Regions from separate parts of the Homo sapiens genome. Here all the other regions are linked to region 2. Evidence: fine-mapped expression QTL. A gene starts in region 2. Each other region holds a variant in brackets. All regions are shown on one strand. Distances are between the middles of the regions.

Evidence for each region. PIP is the estimated chance that this variant, and not a neighbour inherited with it, causes the effect. A credible set is the group of variants that fine-mapping cannot tell apart.
Region 1: its variant is the best candidate, but not a certain one, in a credible set for the expression of LINC00469 in lung (TOPMed, PIP 0.82).
Region 3: its variant is the best candidate, but not a certain one, in a credible set for the expression of LINC00469 in whole blood (INTERVAL, PIP 0.73).

The regions. Positions count from the first base shown.
Region 1 is chr17:73,775,899-73,778,660 of GRCh38, reverse strand. The region is part of intron 2 of LINC00469 (long intergenic non-protein coding RNA 469); the gene reads left to right. Among named protein-coding and RNA genes, the nearest start is that of LINC02092, 9.5 kb to the left of the region's middle. The variant G/T (reference allele first, on the strand shown) is at 1,247.
Region 2 is chr17:73,826,844-73,829,605 of GRCh38, reverse strand. LINC00469 (long intergenic non-protein coding RNA 469) reads left to right here and starts at 1,069. Exons shown (of 4, transcript NR_027146.1): 1 at 1,069-1,158. RefSeq lists enhancers at 1-232, 1,223-1,732.
Region 3 is chr17:73,728,257-73,731,018 of GRCh38, reverse strand. No RefSeq gene overlaps it. Among named protein-coding and RNA genes, the nearest start is that of LINC02092, 57 kb to the left of the region's middle. The variant G/A (reference allele first, on the strand shown) is at 1,526.

The sequences.
Region 1 (2,762 bases), 51 kb after region 2:
GGCTTCTGTAATGGGAACTTTTCTACATATTTTCCTTATATAATAAAAAAACACATACTTTTTAACCGAAAAGTTCTAATGTGTAGGTGAGGGGGTATAAACTTGCTAAACGACTCTTACAGGCCAAGTACTGTGTAAGCATGTAGGTACCATAGTGAGCAAAACACAGATTTCTGTCCTCATGGAGCTTGTATTCTAGCAATTCTGGTTGGGGGAGACAGTAAATAGCAACCAAAAGAAATAAGTAAATTATGTAGTAAGAAGGGATACATACAATGAAATACAAGCAAAAGCACAGGAGAGGAGAAAGACTGGGAGTGTAGGATGGAGGTGAGAAGCCAGTGGCATGTTTGTCTTTCTTTTCTTTTCTTTTCTTTTTGAGACAGAGTCTCGCTCTATCACCCAGGCTGGAGTGCAGTGGTGCCATCCCAGTTCACTGCAACCTCTGCCTCCCGGGCCCAAGCGATTCTGCTGCCTCAACCTCCCAAGTAGCTGGGACTACAGGCATGTGCCACCAAGCCCAGCTAATATTTGTATTTTTAGTAGAGACGAGGTTTCACCATGTTGGCCAGGATGGTCTCGAACTCCTGACCTCGAGTGATCCACCCACCTTGGCCTCCCAAAGTGCTGGGATTACAGGCATGAGCCACCACGCCTGGCCCTGGCCAGCATGTTTAAATAGGGTGCCTGATGTCAGCTCATTTGATTTATTCCTTTGGTAGTCGCTTATTTCACATTCATTCTGGCTATAAGTCCTTTACAAATATTAAATCATTGAATCCTCATTATAACAGTATGAATTAATGTGATTATTTCCCCATTTTACAGAGAAGAAAACTGAGGTAGGGAGAGGTGAAATACCATTTGCAGTGTCAGGTGGTCAGTAAATGTCAGCAAAGGCCCTTGAGGCCAGGCAGTGGGGCTCCAGTCTGTGCTCTTATCCTCTGCACAATGCTGCCTTATGCCTTGAAATAAGAATCTCAAGGCAGTAATGGAGTCAGCCATCAGCCATGCAGGTCTCTGTGGGACAAGCCTTCCAGGCAGAAGGAACAGCCAGTGCAAAGGTCCCGAGGCAGGGGACTGCCTGGGTTATTTGATCATAGGGCAAGGCAGCCAGTGGGGCTGCTGTGGGGTGGGTAGGGCGGGCAGCTGGGGAAGGGGTGGTCAGAGCGGTCACTCAGGCCACATTGCAAGGGGCCCTGAGGCCATGGCGAAGACCCAATTCTCGTTCTGGGAAAAGGAGGAG[G/T]TCTGAACGGTTTGAGCTGTGAGTGGCTCACCCTGGCTGCCATGCTGAGCATGGGCTGCCAGGGTCAGGATGGGGCAGGAGTCCCAGCTGGAGCCGGAGAAAAGCACTTGAAATGGGGAAGAATGATGTGGGATTCTGGGCAGTTTGAAGCAGAGCCGGCAGCATTTCCCAATGGATGGAATGTGGAGTGTGGGAGAAAGAGATGCATCTGTCCTGGCTCATAGATGTGTGGCCCGAAGAACAAACTGGAAGGACAGGGTTGCTCTATGCCGAGATGTGGGAAGAGTCTGTTTGCTTTCTGAGTGTGGCAGCTCCCTCTGAGGATGAAATCACAGCATAACACATTGGAATGGCAATAACTGCCTTGAGACAGAGGTGTTATATCCAAGAAAAAGCGCTTTCAGAGGAGGCTGTGGTTGAAATAATAATGATTGTTTTGATGCATTCCGTATCCAACTGATGGAAAGCACACTTAGCAAGTCAAGAAAAACATGAAAGAATCCAAAGGGCTCCAGGCCAAGACCCAAGTTGACATCCTAAAGCCGCCTGGGAAGTTGAGAGGAAATCGTCTCCCTGCCCCTCCTGGGAGTTGGGGCAAATGGCACCATGAGGACCCTAGCCTCCACCGGGGCGTCTTGGGCCACATCTCGCTCCAGCAGTCAAGCCTCCGAGCTGCCGATGTACGGATGTGGTAAGGATTGCCGATGACTTTTTCATCGCTTTTACGGCAACTCTCACTGCATCCGCCATTCTTTGCAAGGAGAATGTGAATGAACTTCAGATTGAACTACAGACAGAAGAAATTCTTCCTGCCAAAGACACTTAAAACCCCTCCCGTCGGCACCGAGCCCCAAGAATTCTGATTGTGGCAGAGAAAAAACAGCCAGCAAAGATAATACCAAATAGTATAAAAATAGAGTGGGCTTAAGGCAGAGAGACAGAGAGCTGTAGTGTCTCACGCTCACTACAAACATTTACAGAGCATGCAGCTGGGAGGCAAGACCAGCCAAGGAGATACCAACGCCACGAAGCTCTGGGCGAAAGAATCTTGCTAATACTGACATCCATTTCTTCGGGCCTTCATTTGATGAATATTGAGGTGTACAAAGCTCACAAAGGTGTCACGTCCAACATGTCTCTGATGGCGCTGATAGACCGAAGGGGACTGTTTTCAACAATTTGAGCCAAGGTGCTGATGTCCGGCGTGTGAAACCTGGGTAAGCAACCATCTCCAACACAGGCATCTCCATGGGCAGGGCATAAGCCACGCTGCCCAGGACCACCTGTCCCCGCTCCCTGCCTTCACGATCATTCTGTTTTTACCCCTGGGGTTAGGGATCGGAGGAAGGCTGCAGTTTCCTAGCGACCATCTGTCCCTCATCCTTACTATTCCCTGTTTCTGCTTGTGAGGGTGACGTGGGTTTGCGCCTGGGAAGGGCATCTTGTAAGGCTTTCTGTTTGTCAATCTGTGAACAAATATCTATATCCAGTTTACTTCAGGCCAGGCCTGTGCTAA
Region 2 (2,762 bases):
TGCAGGTCCTCAAACGATTACACAGAGTTACCGTGTGACCCACAGTTCCACTCCTCTGTATAGACCCACGAGAAACGAAAACATATATTCATACAGAAACCTGTACAAAATGTTTAAAGCAGCATTATTTGTAATAGCCCAAAGATAGAAACGACATAAATGTCCACCAATGAATCCATACAATGAGGTAGTTATTTGGCCATAGAAAGGAATGAAGTGCCGATAGGACAGCATGAATGAACCCGGGAACCATCACGATAAGTGAAGGAAGCCATTCACAAAAGACCACGGATTGTATGATTCCATTTAGACAAAATGCCCAGAAGAGGCAAATCTCTAGAGACAGAAAGTAGATTACTAGTTGCCTAGGGCTGTAAGGGTGAGCGTTGGGGAGGGGAGATAGCTGAAGGGTCAGAGCTTCTTTTTGAGGTGATACAAATGCTGTAAAATGGACCACGGTGACGATTGCAGCTACATGGAATATACTAGCAACCATTGAATTGTATACTTTTTTTTTTTAAGTGAAAGCAAGCTTATTAGAGAAGTAAAGAAACAAAAGCATGGCCACTCCATAGGCAGAGTAGCCTGAATTGTCCACTTTAAATGGGAGAATTACATAATATATGAATTACATTTCAATAACGCTGTTTAAAAGAAAAAAAAAAGAGTGAAATCTCAGAGGAGGCCACTGAGCACTCTGGTGGAAGAAAATGGTGACTTAGGCCAGGGTCATAGAAGTAGAGACAGCAAGAAGGGATGAAAACAGTGGATTGTGGAGGCCGAATAGACAACCGATGAATAGGTCAACACCTGCTGTCCATCTGTACGAGGGAATATTATTCAGCCATAAAAAGAAATGAAATGAACCTTGCTGCAACATGATGTTAGGTGAAATAAGCCAGACACAAAGGCCCCATATGGAATGATGTCACTTACACGAGGTTTCTACAATAGGCAAATTCATAGAGACAGAAAGAATGGAGGTTACCAGGAACTGGGAGGAGAAAAGAATGGGACATTATTATCTCACAGTTCCAGAATTTGTTTGGGATGATTTAAAAAAAAAAAAAAAAGCTCTGGAAATAGATCATCAGGATGGTTGCACAATGTTTTGAATGTAAATGCCACTGAATTGTACACCTTAAAAGGGCTCAAATGGTAAATATTATGCTATGTATATTTTACCATGATGAAAATAAACGTACAAAAGTGAGACAGCAGTGAGTCTAGGCCTCCCTTTTAAGAAGCGATGGCATCAAAGAGAGCAGAGGAAGAGAGATGGAAGTTAGGAAGGGGTTTTTCAAAGAGCAGATTCACGGGAAACGATTCATTCGTGCAGGAGAGAAAGGATGAAGGAGGAGCGGGGTCCCTTGAATGTCCACAGGCAGAAGACGAGGGCAGAAGGGGAGGAGGTTGTCTTTGTGGCGGACAGAGGAGCTGTGAATAGGGAGGGAAACAAGGGTGTGCCTTCCGTTTACTCAGCACAGGAAGAAGCAAGGCGAGGAAGAACAGGCTCCTTTTTGAAATGCAAAAGCCTGTTCTTATCTAAACACTCTTGCATAAGACAAACAAGAGCGCTACCCAGTTGGTGACTTGGGACAGGAATGCCTGCCACCCTCTTAAACGTTCTCTCCCCTCCCCTAGCCTAGACTGAAGACCTCGGCCTCCAGCTTCTCTCCCAGACCCTTTCTTGGCTGGATGAGGTCACTCACCCCTTTTGAAAGCTCCACAGGCATTTCTGGACCAAGTTCCCTCACTCTTTTAAATGGTTCTGTAATTGCTTCATTCGCATAAACCTGCCCTCCTGGGCATCTGAACAGCCCCAGGGCAGGGCCTGACTGCAGAGCCAGCTTCCTTACGCCAAGGCCCTCGTGCCTGCGTCCCTCCTCGCCTTCAGCCATGAGGTTGCCTGGCCAGCGGTGGGGGTCGCCTGGATCGTGGGGATGTTCCCCCCACCCACCTGGCCCCACCAGTGAAGGGCCCCAGCTGACACCATCTCTCTTGTTTCCTGTTTTCCTGGGTCAGACCCAGCTGGAGGTCTGCAAATTCTGAAGCAGTTCTCAACCCTGGGTGCACATTTTAATCATTTTTTACAAAATACGAATGCCTGATGTCCAGCCCTGACACTGGTCTGCTTGGTCTGGGGGTGAGGCCCTGGAACGGATGTGTTTAGATTTCCCATGAGACTCTGATGTGCAGCCAGGGTACCAACCTCTGCTCTAAAGCAGGTGAGATTGCCCTGGGGACTTCATTAGAATCAGTGCCCAATTCCTCCACCCCCGCAGAGATTTCGCTTCTGGAAGTCCAGAGTCGAGGTCCAAGAATCTGTGCATTTTAACAATACAGCCCCCAGGGGAGCTTGATGAAGGTCCCTTGGGAAGTTCAGGGCATGGTGCAGGGGACACTGTCTCTCTCTCCTTCCCTCTCATCTGCATCAGCTCCCCAGGCAGGTGGCACTTTCTCTGGACAGGTCTGGAGTCAGGGCTGCAAGGCTGGTTTATGCCTGGAGGTCGGGGGATGATGTGAGGTGTGCATAGAGAGAAGCCCCTGTGAGGAACGGGGACCACTCCTGCTCACCCACATCAGTGACAGCCCAGCCTGGGGCTGGCCCTGGAAGGCCAAAGAGTGAACAGGTCTGGGGGCTGGTGCTGGGTTGAGCTCAAGGGCCTGGGGCTGGGGTCTCCATTCCAGATTCCTCCTTCCCTCTGTCACTTCAAGTACCATCAGAGCCACCTGGGGATTTTGTCCTGAGTCACTCTGAG
Region 3 (2,762 bases), 99 kb after region 2:
AGGAGGGTGCTTCTTTGGAGGCCATATCAGAAGCTGCCTTCCACAGTGGGTATCTACATGTCTAGCTCTTGCTGCTTCACAGTAGAAGTGATGGAGTTCTCTAGGATCCCACAGTGGAGTGACAAGAGAGATAAGTAAACCACAATTGTGTACTGAGCGTATATGTTACGGTACAGCAGGCCACAAAGAATGTGGGCATCATTGACTATATTCTATGGGAATGCACAGGATGGTTCCTAACCCAAACATGCAGGGAAGGCTTCCTGGAGGAAGTGATGGGCAGGGACTTCCTCTGTCCTAGGACCTGCCATAACCCTGATAACTCCATGAATATGGCAATAACCTGGGGCTGCCTTCATAGGAACTGCTTCTGGATTGGGGAACCTGAAGGGCCAATTAGAGATGACTACAGAACTCCTAGACAGGAAGAAGTGAGAACAGAGAAACAGAGGGAGGGAAGAGAAAAGAATGGCCTCTTCAGTGACCTACAAACATCTTGCAAATGCTATGGGACATGGTGAAGAGATGGAAATTTTAGAGCGCACCCTTCATGCAGTGTATTAGCCAGGGTAGACCAGCTGCTATAACAAACATCTCCCAAATGTACTATGGTTTAACACTATACAGGTTTAATTTCTTGCAGTAATAGCCTAAAGTGAGCTAGCTGGGATGTTCCACTCCTCCCAGTCTTTTGGGGACAAGGCACCTCCTTTCTAGTATCTCGGTAGTCTTCTAGGGCTGGAGAGTCCTCCACTGCATCAACTGCATCTGGGTGGGCTACCAGAGAAGGCAGAGAGAGCCTTTTAGGGCCCAGCCCTGGAAATTGCAGCAACCCTTCTGCCCAGATTCCATGGGTCAGAGTTCAGTCTCCTGGACCCACCTAACTGGGGGAGGGTAGGGAGGCACAGAAATGCAGACCAAAGCGGAAGAGACCAGGCATATCTGTGAAACATTCCCTGGCTTCTGCCCCATGCAGGTGTCATATAATAGACGAATGGTCAGGGATGGAGCTGGGCCCTTCCCAGCCTAGGTCCTCCTTCCCCCTGCTGCCCACCCCTTCTGCCCCCACCATGAAATGTTCTTTCCCAGTGCCTCCCCCAGATTTCTCTGGCCATCTTCCCCCAAGTCTATAGGCAAATTCTTGGGTTCCTGAATGGCCCTCTCTCATGTGATGTCTTCTCGAGCACCTCTTACTCGCCTCATGAAATCTTCTTTGCAGGCAAAGAGTTTGTCTCACTGTCCCACAAGCAGAATACATCAAACACTGGTCTTGAAGTGCAAAACCCAACTTCAAGTCTAGCCACTGCACTTTTCTTTAGACTTCTAGGTCTTGGTTTATTAAATGGGTGATAGGAAGGGGACGGGGAGATTTGAGCTAAGTGATCTCTAACATCCTTCCAGTGCGTCTCACATGAACTAACTCAAGCCTTGATTTTCACCAGATGTTCTCACTCATGCAGCTGTTTTCTGGGGCTGCAGTGCCCTTCCCCACCCAAATCACACACTTTTGAGTTTCCACACATCT[G/A]TCACTTGCCCATCCACCACCTACACCCCCATGCCCCTGCCACCAAAGAGAGAAGCCGCCATTCAGGGAAAGCTGGGGTTGGGTCATTCTCTGCACATGACTACACTGTCAGACACTAAACCAACACTGCTCAATAGAATTTTCTGTGATAAGGGAATTGTTCAGTAATCAGTGCTGCCCAATATACCAGCCACAAACCACGTGTGACTACTGAGCACTTGAAATGCGACTTGTGTGACCGAAGCACTGAAATGTGTCACTGTACTTCATCTCCATTACTATACCTTTGACCTTAATAGCCACACATGGCCCATGGCTGCCATATTGGGCAGCACAGTGCTAGAAATGAAGTCTAGAGCTTCGCCCGCTGACTTGTGTCAGAGGCTCTTTCTCTTAGTTGTTGGAACTCCAGTAGAAGCTCAGTATGATGGGGGTAACTGAAACCTTCCCTGGGGTCGATAACTAACACTGTGCTTCTCAAGCATTTCAGTGCATGTAAGTCATCTTATTAAAAAATACAAAAAGAATTAGCCAGATGTGATGGTGCACACCTGTAATCCCAGCTACTCAGGATGCTGAGGCAGGAGAATCCCTTGAACCCAAGAATTGGAGGTTGTGGTGAGCTGAGATTGCACCACTGTACTCCAGCCTGGGTGACAGAGTGATACATCTCAAAAAAAAATTAAATTAAGAAAAGAAAAAGGCAGACTCTGGCCAGGCCTGATGGCTTGCGCCTGTAATCCCAGAACTTTGGGAAGCTGAGGATGGAGGATCGCTTGAGGCCAGGAGTTTGACACCAGCCTGGGCAACATGGTGAGACCCTGTCTCTACTAAAAATCCAAAAAATTAGCTGGGCATGGTGGCATGCACCTGTAGTCTCAGCTACTCAGGAGGCTGAGGCAGGAGAATCGCTTGAGCCCAGGACGTGGACGTTGCAGTGAGCCGAGATCACGCTGCTGCACTCCAGCCTAGGCGACAGAGCCAGACCCTATCTCATAATAATTTTTTGAAAAAGCAGGTATCTGATACCCTAAATCTGGGGTCGGTCTGAGGTTCTGCATTTCCTACAGGGTTTCCAGGTGGTGACAGTTCTGCTGGCCCATGGACCCCACTTTCAGCAGCAGGGCACTGCAGTGTCCCTTCCTTCCCCAGCAGGCAAACAGTCCAACTTCCTTCCACCCGGCTCCTTCATGCCATTGGCTCACGCCTCCATCTTCTGCATTATTCCATATATCCC